Regions from separate parts of the Homo sapiens genome. Here region 1 is linked to region 2. A link means that fine-mapping ties the variant in region 2 to the expression of a gene that starts in the linked region. Tissue or cell type: whole blood. Region 2 holds a variant in brackets; the other region holds the start of a gene. All regions are shown on one strand. Distances are between the middles of the regions.

Region 1 (6,014 bases), 330 kb after region 2:
GTTTGGGAGGCTGAAGTGGGAGAATCGCTTGAGCTCAGGAGTTGAGAGACCAGCCTAGGCAACACAGCAAGACTGTGTGTTTTTTTTTTTAAGGTATTAAAAGTCTGATTCAAATGAATATGGAAAACTCAGGAAAACAATGATTTTGTAACTAAATTAACATCTAGAACTTTTCTCTTTTATCCATAATTATTGGACTTATTTAAAACTAAAAAATTTTTTCGCCATGCACGGTGGCTCACGCCTGTAATCCCAACTTTGGGAGGCTAAGGCGGGCGGATCACAAGGTCAGGCATTCGAGACCAACCTGGCCAACATGGTGAAACCCCGTCTCTACTAAAATTACAAAAATTAGCCAGGTGAGGTGACCCACGCCTGTAGTCCCAGCTACTCAGGAGGCTGAGGCAGGAGAATCACTTTAACCTGGGAGGCAGAGGTTGCAGTGAGCCGAGATCGCGCCACTGCACTCCAGCCTGGGTGACAGAGAGAGACTCTGTCTCAAGAAAAAAAAAAAAAAAAAAGGAAAATTCATCTATTTAAGATAATCAGCAGCTATATTTAAAGGACCACAGTTAACCACAACAGAGACAAGAAACCTGCCATTAAAAAGTATAATTGGTGAAGCTGTATAATGGGTACAAGGTCATTACATTATTCTGCTTTTGTGTATGGTTTATAATTTCCATGTTATAAAACCATAATACATCAAAAAATAGATTTTCATGTAAACTTATGCCAAGTGAAAAATAAATGGCATGTATCCGCCTCTTCTGTTGCCTCATATCAAAGTCAGGGTCAAACCAGGGAACTTTCCCTTTCTAACCCATTCAATACATGCTCTTACCAGGTCCTTATGTGTACCCACTGGAAGATGCAAATGGGAAGAGCCAGCTTACTTACATAGAATGGTGCTGAAAATAACCCAGGCAAGATATTAGTACGTTTTCAATAGAAATTTTGGAACATTCTTGAGAATTGACCTCAAGACTGAAAAACTTAACTGCATGGAAGATTATTTCTTTGAGAGAATTTTTCTTGTGTTTTTAAGAGTCAGGGTCTTGTTCTGTTGCCCAGGATAGAGTGCAGCGGCCCAATCATGGCTCACTGCAGCCTTGAATTCCTGGGCTCAGGGAGTACCTCTTGCCTCACTCTCCAGAGTAGATGGGACTACAGGCACAAGCCACCATATCTCGTTGTTGTTTTTTTTTACATTTTTGTAGACTGGGTCTTGGTATGTTGCCCTGGCTGGTATTGAACTTCTGGTCTTAAGTAATCTTCCCATCTCAGGCTCCAGAGCAGCTGAGATTACAGTCAAGAGCCACCTTGCCCAGCTCTAGATAAATTTCTGTATAATGTTCCCTGGTACAATAAAAACAAATCCAACTGAGGGTATGTGCATGGGTCTATTATCAGTTTTCTAACTGGTTTGTCTAACGTCTTTACTCTTTTATTCCCTCTAGAAAGACTAAAGGTAACCAATACAATTTATTATACCAAAATGCCTGTGGACTTCTCATGACTGGAGTCAACCTACTTATAAAAGGAAGTAAAACTTAATTGGAATGGAGTTGAAACTAAATGTTAAAGTCATCTTTTCTACTTTGCTTTTGCACTGTCACGATGGAGGGGACTACACTTCTCCAGCTGCAGGTTGAGAATGTAAAGGAACCGGTATCAACACTGTCCTCATGAATACCGTAGCAAATGTACTTTTGATTTTTAAGTGTGGTTAGTCTGACACCCACCTTTGGCTTCCTGGGGAGTAAATTCCACAGGTTGATTCACCATTCTATTACACCTGCTTTTTATTTGCTCTTAAATCAAAGCCTTTAAAATTAAGCCTGGAGCTTCAAATTAACATAAAGAGGAATGGAGTGTAGTCTTTAAAGTTTCTGCAGGAGAAAAATTTTAGACCGGATAGACGCGTGTTCAAGCCTAGGACTGGTACAGCTTGAAACCACTGCCAGTTTGCTGAAAATGATTCCTCAGATGATCAAGGAAAATCCCAAAGCTCCTGATGACACCTCACCTGGTTGAACTCCTCGTCAGCATATATATCAATCAAGTCCACTCCTTCTGACATGGCTCCGGAAGGAAGATCGCGAGTCCGGAGGATGGACAAAGTAAGGAAGATGCCACTGCGGGATTCGGAAAAATGCAAGAATTAGAAGGCACGAGGGTCCTGGGCTGGGAAGAGGGTAATGATTGCTAACCTCCCATCTCCAGAGACGCAGCATCCTGGCGGCCCCAGCTCGGCCCCACCCGCTCCGCCCCGCCCCCGGCCTCGCGCCGCCCACCGCTCTCCCAGGCCGCCGGGGGTCGCTGCCCATCACCCTCGGGCCCGACCCGGGTAGCGCCGCGTCTGCGCCGCAGCTGCCTATGGCGCGACGGAAAAGTCCCACCCTCGGGTCCTAGTGGCCCTAGGACGGCGTTGCGAAGAATGACCGCGGCGAAGCCCGCAGCCCCTATCCGCTGCACCTGCCTAGCCCCCAAGGCGGCTCCGGCCAGAGCCCCCAGGTGTCAAGCAGCTCCAGCCGCCTCTGCCCCCAACCCAGGCCTACTCTTCGCCCCCAGCTAGGCCCGCCCCGCTCCCTCCCGACAAACCCGGCCCGGCGCGCTCTGCCTCCTCCCTCAAAAGGCCCGCGACTCCCTCCGCCCGCAGACTCCGGCCGTCCCATCTCAACCGACCCCCTTCCCGCCTCAGTGCCGGCCCGGACCCCTCTTCCGGCCCAACCTGCCCCCGACCGCGCGCCCCCGTTACCGGGAATATGGCGGCGGCGGCGGCGAGTCCGGACTAGGCCCGAAGCGCGCGAACCGCTCTCCGCCCCAGGTCCCGCCCCCCCCGCCGCCGGCGTCACACGCACCGCCACTTCCGGCATGCGCAGGGACGCACCTTCCGGCTCAGCTCCTCCGTGGCTGCCGTGGTCGGCTGGCCGGGCGGCTAGGAGTTCCCGGAAGTGCCCGCGCAGCCGGTTTCCGGTGCAGGTGGGGAAAATGGCGGTGTCTACAGTGTTCTCGACTTCGTCGCTGGTGAGGAGAGAGAACGTTCTAGCGTCCGGGGCGGGCGGCAGCGGGGATTACCCTTTGTCTTCCTCTGTGGTCTCTATCTTGGGGAGAGTTCGTCTGCCCGATAGCGCAGGGCAAGGGCAGGCCCAGGGAGAGGCCGATCCTGCAACTCAGGAAATAAAGGTCGCTTCCATTCTTTGGTGAGCCTACTGTGTGCCGGTCTGGAAATATCTGCTTAAACGATCAGTCATCGTCCAAGACCCAATTCGCCTCTCACCTACGTCCCAGGCGGGATTAGCCCAACTTCCCTGGGCTCCCCTTCTCCCCGTTCTTTAGTCTTTAATGCTTTTCGTGGTTTCACATAGTATCTTCAGCTTTTTGTTTGTTTATAATTGACATATAATTGTACGTGTTTATGGGGGTACAGTATAATGTTTTAATACATGTGTACATCGAATAATCAAATCAGCGTAGTTAGCATGTCCATCACCTCAAATCTTTATCATTTATTTACGGTAATAACTTTTCAAGATCTTTTTCTAGCATCTTGACATATACAGTACAGTGTTATTAGCTGTAGTCACTCTAATATGTAATAGAACACTGGAACTTATTATTCTTTTTTCCTAGCCTGCTGTTATAAAGTAACTAACTTTGCCTCTATCTTCCCCTCCTACCCCCATCCCTATCTTTATTCTTTTTTTTTTTTCCTGCAGACCCAGGGACTCGATCTTTATTCTTTTTTGATGTAGGCGTTTACACTATAAACTTCCTTCTTAGTACAGCTTTTGTCGCATCTCATAATTTTGTATATGTTGGGTTTTAGTTTGTCTCAGGATATTTCCTTTTTGTTTGTTTTTTGTTGTTTTCCTTTTTTTTTTTTGAGACGGAGTTTTGCTCTTGTCGCCCAGGCTGGAGTGCAATGGCACGAACTTGGCTCACTGCAACCTCCACCTACCGGGTTCAAGCGATTCTTCCGCCTCAGCCTCCCAGGTAGCTGGGATTACAGGCATCGCCATCATGCCTGGCTAATTTTTGTATTTTTGTAGAGATGGGGTTTCACCTTGTTGGCCAGGCAGGTCTCGAACTCCAGACTTAAGGTGATCCGTCCTTCTCGGCCTCCCAAAGTGCTGAGATTACAGGCGTGAGCCACCGCGCCCGGCCTGTTGTTTCCCTTCTTTTTTCTTTTTTTCGTAGAGACAGGTTCTCACTATGTTGCCCAGGCTGGTCTCAAACTCCTGGCCTCAAGTGATCCTCCTGCCTCAGCTTTCCAAAAAGTGCTGGGATTACTGGTGTGATCCACCATTCCCGGCGTGTCTCAAGATATTTTCTAATTTTCCTTTTGATGTCTTCTTTGACTCATTGATTGTTCAAGAGTGTGTTGTTTAATTTCCACATATTTGTGAATTTTCCACCTTTTCTTTTGCCATTGATTTCCAGATTTTAATAAAATGTCTCTTGTGCGGCATATAGTTGAATCTTTTTTTTAATTCATTATATTCAGCCACTTCATGTCTTTTGGTTGGGGAGGTTATGTTATGTTATGTTATTTTCTTGAGACAGAGTCTCGCTCTGTCGCCCAGGTTGGAGTGCAGTGGCATGATCTCGACTCACTGCAAGCTCCACCTCCTGGGTTCACGCCAATCTCCTGGTTTAGGAGTAGCTGGGACTACAGGCGCCCCCCACCACGCCTGGCTAATTTTTTGTATTTTTAGTAGAGACGAGATTTCACCGTGTTAGCCAGGATGGTCTCGATCTCCTGACCTCGTGATCTGCCCGCCTCAGCCTCCCAAAGTGCTGGGATTACAGGCGTGAGCCACCGCGCCAGGCCTGGAGTTTAATCCATTTATACCTAAAGTAAATAGTGGCCGAGGTGGGTGGATCGTGTGAGTCCTGGAGTTCGAGACCAGCCTGGGCAACATGGCAAAACCCCTTTTCTACTAAAAAAAATTAGTCAGGTGTGGTAGTACACACCTGTAGTCCCAGCTACTTGAGAGGCTGAGGCGGGAGTGCGTCTGAGAAGTCAAGGCTGCGGTGAGCCTTGATTTTGCAACAGCACTCCAGCCTGGGCATTGGAAGTGAGACCTTGTCTCAAAAAATAAATAAAATAGGGAAGTACAATCATCCCTTTGTATCCATGGGATGACTGTTGTAGGATCCGCTGTGGATATCAAACTCTGCAGAAGCTCAGTCTCTTATATAAAATGGCATAGTATTTGCATATAATCTACACACATACTTCCATATCCTTTAAATTATTTCTAGATTACTTATAATACCGAAAACAATGTCAAGGCTATGTATATGCTTGTTATACTATATCTTAGTTGTTTTTTAATTGTTGTATTATTTATTTCTTTTGAATATTTTTGATCCACAGTTGGTTGAGTGTGCAGTTGGTTGAATTTACAGGTGTGGAACCCACAGATACGGAGGGCCAACTGTGCTTGCTGTTGCCGTTTTGTAAACTGTTCTCTGTCTTACAACCTTTTTGCTCCTCTTTTCCACTCTTGTCATCCTTTATATTTCGTTGACTTTTTTTTTTTTGTAGTGACATACTTTGAGAAACGAATTTCTCATTTCCTTGTGTGTCTTACACAGGTATTTCTTTGTGGTTACCATGTGGCTTATATAAAACATAACAATCTGTTTTGATAACTTAATTTCCATTGCATACAAAAACTCTGCTCTTTTATGACCCCCTTGTATGTTGTGGATGTCACAAATTACATCTTTTTATATTGTCTCCATTAACAAATTTTTATAGTTGTTTTTATACCTTTGTCTTTAATTTCTATACCAAAATTAAAAGTGACTTACATACCACAGTTACAGTATTATAGTATTCTGTACTTGTCTCTCTCTATATATTTTTTTAATTTAATTTTTTTTTTTTTTTGAGACGGAGTCTCGCTCTGTTGCCAGGCTGGAGTGCAGTGGCGCGATCTTGGCTCACTGCAACCTCCATCTCCTGGGTTCAAGCGATTATCCTGCCTCAGCCTCCCGGG
Region 2 (6,380 bases):
GTTCTTTGTTTTGTGGTGTGAGCATGGTGTTTTGTCTCGAGGAAACATGGGTCAGACACAAAGTAAGCCTACCCCACTAGGAACTATGTTGAAAAATTTCAAAAAGGGATTTAAGGGAGACTCTGGAGTCACTATGACACCAGGAAAACTTAGAGCTTTGTGTGAGATAGACTGGCCAGCATTAGAGGTGGGTTGGCCATCGGAAGGAAGCCTGGACAGGTCCCTTGTCTCGAAGGTATGGCACAGGGTAACCTGTAAGCCAGGGCACCCAGATCAGTTCTCACATATAGATTCTTGGTTACAGCTAGTTTTGGACCCCCCGCAGTGGTTAAGAGGACAGGCAGCAGCAGTACTAGTAGCAAAGGGACAGTTAGTTAAGGAAGGTTCTCGATCCCACCCGCCGAGGGAAGTCAGCACCAAAAGTCCTGTCCAACCCAACACCAGAAGAGTCACAGCAGGAATTGGTACCAGCAGTATCCCCTCCTTATCAAGAGGAAGGGCTCCCCACTCCTGAGCCCACAGCACCTACAACTCCACCAGATAACCACACCCCAGACCACCCAGAGTAGACAAAAGAGGAAGTGAAGCCACGGGAGAAACTCCTCCCTTGAAAGCTCGCTTACAGCCCAAGACTGGAATCCAAATGCCCCTGAGAGAGCAGTGATATACTGGGGTAGATGAGGACGGACACATGGTGGAAAGGCGTGCCTTTGTGTATCAACCTTTTACCTCTGCTGACCTCCTCAATTGGAAAAATAATACTCCATCTTACACTGAAAAGCCTCAAGCTTTAATTGACTTGCTCCAAACTATTATACAGACTCATAATCCTACTTGGGCTGACTGCCACCAGCTGCTCATGTACCTCTTTAATACAGGTGAAAGGTGAAGGGTGCTCCAGGCGGCAACTAAGTGGCTAGAGAAGCACGTCCCAGCCAATTACCAAAACCCCCAAGAATATATAAGAATTCAGCTGCCAGGAACAGACCCCCAATAGGACCTGAACGAGGGACCAGACATGGAGAGGCTAAGACGGTACCGTGAGGCATTAATAGAAGGTCTAAGGAAAGGGGCTCAAAAGGCTACAAATGTAAATAAGGTCTCTGAGGTCATCCAAGGAAAAGAGGAGAGTCCAGCACAATTCTATGAAAGACTGTGTGAGGCTTACTGTATGTACACTCCTTTTGATCCAGATAGCCCTGAGAATCAGCCCATGATTAACATGGCCTTACTTAGTCAAAGCACGGAATATATCAGGAGAAAATTGCAGAAACAGGCTGGGTTTGCGGGTATGAATACCTCACAGTTACTGGGGTTTGCGGGTATGAATACCTCACAGTTACTGGAAATAGTCAATCAAGTGTTTGAGAATGCAACAAGCCACAGAGAAAGCCGTAAGGAAGGCGAACGCCAGGCTAGGCGAAACGCCGACTTACTGGCCATGGCCATTATGGGAATTCCCCCGAAAGGAGAGGGAAAGGGGGGTTCTGGGAAGAATACCCAGTCTAATCTCCCATGCTTGCAATGTAACCAATGCGCCTGTTGTAAGGAAGTAGGGCATTGGAAAGATAAGTGTCCCCAACTGAAGGAAAAGCAAGGTGATTCAGAACAAAAGACCTCAGATAAAGATGAGGGAGCTTTGTTCAATCTGGCTGAAGGGCTACTGGACTGAAGGGGACCGGGCGCAAGCACCCCCAAGGAGCCCAAGGTCAGGATTACAACTGGGGGCAAGGACGTTAAGTTTTTGGTTGATAGTGGTGCTGAACCTTCAGTAGTGACCACCCCGGTCACCCCCTCATCCAAGAAAACCATTGATATAATCAGAGCAACAGGAGTTTCCACTAAGCAGGCTTTCTGTCTACCACGGACCTGCTCGGTGGGGGGACATGAGATAGCTCACCAGTTCTTGTACATGCCTGACTGTCCCTTGCCCTTGCTGGGAAGAGACTTGCTTAGCAAGTTGAGAACCACCATCTCCTTTACAAAGCAGGGCTCTTTACAGCTAAAGTTACCAGCAACAGGAGTTATCATGGCCCTTACGGTCCCCCGGGAAGAAGAATGAAGACTTTTTCTAACCAAGCCAGGCCAAGAGATAAAACCAGCTCTAGCTAAGCAATGGCCCCAAGTATGGACAGAGGATAATCCTCCAGGACTGGTGGTCAGCCAAGCCCCTGTACTCATAGAAGTTAAGCCTGGGGCCCAACCAATTAGACAAAAGCAGTATCTGGTTCCCAGAGAAGCTCTCGAAGGAATCCAGGTTCCTCTCAGGCGCTTGACAGCCTATGGAATTATAGTTCCTTGCCAGTCTCCACGGAACACCCCCCTCCTACCTGTCCCTAAACCAGGGACCAAGGACTACTGGCCAGTACAGGACTTGGTCCGAGGAGAAGTTTACAAACCCTCTCCTGAGCCAGTGTTTCAAACTTTCTAAGATGAACTCAATGTGCCAGTACCACAAATTCCAGGAAAAACAAGAAATTTGTTTTTGCAATTAGCCGAGCACGTAGCCCAGTCTCTCAATGTCACTTCATGTTATGTATGCGGAGGAACTGTAATGGGAGGTCAATGGCCATGGGAAGCCCAAGAATTACTACCTACAGACCCAGTTCCTGATGAATTCTTGGCTCAAAAGAATCACCCTGATAATTTCTGGGTCCCAAAAGCCTCAATTATTGGACAATATTGCATAGCTAGAGAAGGAAAAGAATTCACTCACCCCGTAGGACGACTTAGTTGTCTGGGACAGAAACTGTATAATGGTACCACAGAAACAGTCACTTGGTGGAGTTCAAATCACATAGAGAGGAATCCATTTAGTAAATTCCCAAAGTTGCAAACCGTGTGGACCCACCCGGAGTCCCACCAGGACTGGACAGCCCCCACTGGATTATACTGGATATGTGGGCATAGAGCTTACGCCAAATTACCTGACCACTGGGCAGGTAGTTGTGTTATTGGCACTATTAAACCATCTTTCTTCCAACTGCCCATAAAAACAGGTGAACTCCTGGGCTTCCCTGTCTATGCTTCCC[G/A]CAAAAAGAGAAGCATAGCTATAGAAAATTGGAAAGATGATGAATGGCCGCCCCCTGAGAGAATCATACAATATTATGGGCCTGTTACTTGGGCACAAGACGGCTTGTGGGGATACCAGACCCCCATTTACGTGCTCAACCGAATCATACGGTTACAAGCTGCCTTAGAAATAATCACTGATAAAATCAGCAGAGCCTTGACTATTCTGGCCTGGCAAGAAACTCAGATGAGAAATGCTATCTCTCAAAATAGATTGGCTCTCGACTACTTGCTAGCAGCTGAAGGAGGGGTCTATGGGAAATTTAACCTTACTAATTGCTGTCTACACGTAGATGATCAAGGACAAGTAGTTGAAGATATAGTTAGAGATAGGACAAAACTGGCACATGTGCCCGTGCAAGTGTGGCATGAATTTGATCCTGGGGCCATGTTTGGAAAATGGTTCCCAGCACTAGGAGGATTTAAAACTCTTATAATAGGAGTTTTAATAGTAATAGGAACCTGCTTACTGCTCCCTTGTTTGCTACCTGTACTTCTTCAAATGATAAAAAGCTTCATCGCTACCTTAGTTCACCAAAATGCTTCAGCCCAAGTGTACTATGTGAATCACTATTGATCTGTCTTGCAAGAAGACATGGTAGTGAAAATGAAAGTGAGAACTCCCACTCATGAGTGAGATTCTCAAAAGAGGGGAATAAGGGAGGAGACCACCCCTCATACTGTCTTATGCCCAATTTCTGCCTCCAAAGAAAGAAGAAGTAAAAACTAAAAGGCAGAAATGAAATCTGCTCGGCACCACACCTGGGCTTGGTAGTTAAAGATCGACCCCTGACCTAATCTGTTATGTTATCTATAGATTACAGACATTTTATAGAAAAGCACTGTGAAAATCCCTGTCCTATTCTGTTCCATTCTAATTATCAGTGCATGCAGCCCCCAGTCATGTACCCCCTGCTTGCTCAATCGATCATGACCCTCTCAAGCAGACTCCCTTAGAGTTGTGAGCCCTTAAAAGGGACAGGAATTGCTCACTCAGAGAGCTCAGCTCTTGAGACAGGAGTCTTGCTGATGCTCCCGGCTGAATAAACCCCTTCTTTCTTTAACTTGGTGTCTGAGGGGTTTTGTCTGTGGCTTGTCCTGCTACAGGTCTAAGTGGAATCTAAGTGGAGGCATCACTGAGCCAGCCTCTCCAGCCCAGGGATGGGGAGGCCCCAGGCCCTAGTGGACCTGGACCAGTGATCACGTCCTTGAACTACTTCCTACCTGCCTGGGGTGGCCCAGAGTACAGGAAGCCCAAGGAGCCAGGAGCTTTCTCATCTGGGAGCACAAAGGATGTGAGGAAAAAACGGAACCCAGCCCAGCCCAGGGAAACACAGGGACTTTCCCCTGCCCCGGGCTTCCCATCTTCTTTGCAGAGACCCTGCCTCTTCTTCAAGGGGGATGATTCCAGACCCTCTAAGAGCAACAGGGACACGGAGCTCACATACATACCCCACATCAACATGGAGATCACACACCTCAACACGGAGATCACACACATCAACATGGAAATCACACACACATATCGAATGGGGATTACACACATCAACGTGGAGCTCATACATACACCCCAACATGGAGATCACACCCACAACACAGAGATCACACAAGTCAACATGGAGATCACACACACACATCAACATGGAAATCACACACACACATCAACATGGAAATCACACACATCAACATGGAGATCACACACACACATCAACATGGAGATTACACATACATCAACATGGAGATCACACACACATCAACATGGAGATCACACACACACATCAACATGGAGATCACATTCGCACACATCAACATGGAGATCACACACACACATCAACATGGAGATTCACACATATCAACATGGAGATCACATTCACACACATCAACATGGAGATCACATTCACACACATCAACATGGAGATCACAAACACACATCAACATGGAGATCAAATTCACACATCAACATGGAGATTACACACACATCAACATGGAGATCACATTCACACACATCTACATGGAGATCACATTCACAACACAAACATGGAGATCACACACACATATATCAAATGGGGATTACACACACATCAACCCCAACATGGAGATCACACACACAGCACAGAGATCACACATGTCAACATGGAGATCATACACACACATCAACATGGAGATCACACACACATCAACATGGAGATCACACACACATCAACATGGAGATCACACACACTCGTCAACATGGAGATCACATTCACACACATCAACATGGAGATCACACACACACATCAACATGGAGATCACACACACACGACATGGAGATCACACACACACATCAACATGGAGATCACTCACACACATCAACATGGAGATCACACACACATCAACATGGAGATCACATTCACACACATCAACATGGAGATCACACACACACAACATGGAGATTACACACACACATCAACATGGAGATCACACACACATCAACATGGAGATCACACACACACAACATGGAGATCACACACACACATCAACATGGAGATCACACACACATCAACATGGAGATCACACATACATCAACATGGAGATCACACACACACGACATGGAGATCACACACACACATCAACATGGAGATCACTCACACACATCAACATGGAGATCACACACACACATCAACATGGAGATCACATTCACACACATCAACATGGAGATCACACACACACAACATGGAGATTACACACACACATCAACATGGAGATTACACACACAACATGGAGATCACATTCACACATATCAACATGGAGATCACATTCACACACATAAACATGGAGATCACACACACACATCAACATGGAGATCACACACACATCAACATGGAGATCACACACACAACATGGAGATCACACACACACATCAACATGGAGATTACACACACATCAACATGGAGATCACATTCACACACATCAACATGGAGATCACAAACACACATCAACATGGAGATCACACACACACATCAACATGGAGATCACATTCACACACATCAACATGGAGATCACAAACACACATCAACATGGAGATCACACACACACATCAACATGGAGATTACACACACATCAACATGGAGATCACATTCACACACATCAACATGGAGATCACACACACATCAACATGGAGATCACACACACATCAACATGGAGATCACACACACACATCAACATGGAGATTACACACACATCAACATGGAGATCACATTCACACACATCAACATGGAGATCACACACACACATCAACATGGAGATCACACACACACATCAACATGGAG

The links. PIP is the estimated chance that this variant, and not a neighbour inherited with it, causes the effect.
Region 1: it holds the start of SDHAF2, and the variant in region 2 is fine-mapped to the expression of SDHAF2 in whole blood (TOPMed, PIP above 0.99).

The regions. Positions count from the first base shown.
Region 1 is chr11:61,427,153-61,433,166 of GRCh38, forward strand. SDHAF2 (succinate dehydrogenase complex assembly factor 2) reads left to right here and starts at 2,972. Exons shown (of 4, transcript NM_017841.4): 1 at 2,972-3,030. The coding sequence starts at 2,995. It overlaps CPSF7 (cleavage and polyadenylation specific factor 7), which reads right to left and starts at 2,823. Exons shown (of 10, transcript NM_001142565.3): 1 at 2,762-2,823; 2 at 2,030-2,138. The coding sequence starts at 2,083. RefSeq lists enhancers at 2,038-2,686, 3,043-3,102 and silencers at 2,193-2,622, 2,733-2,902, 2,761-3,096.
Region 2 is chr11:61,094,664-61,101,043 of GRCh38, forward strand. It overlaps a transcript of CD5 not described here. Among named protein-coding and RNA genes, the nearest start is that of CD5, 4.6 kb to the right of the region's middle. The variant G/A (reference allele first, on the strand shown) is at 3,033.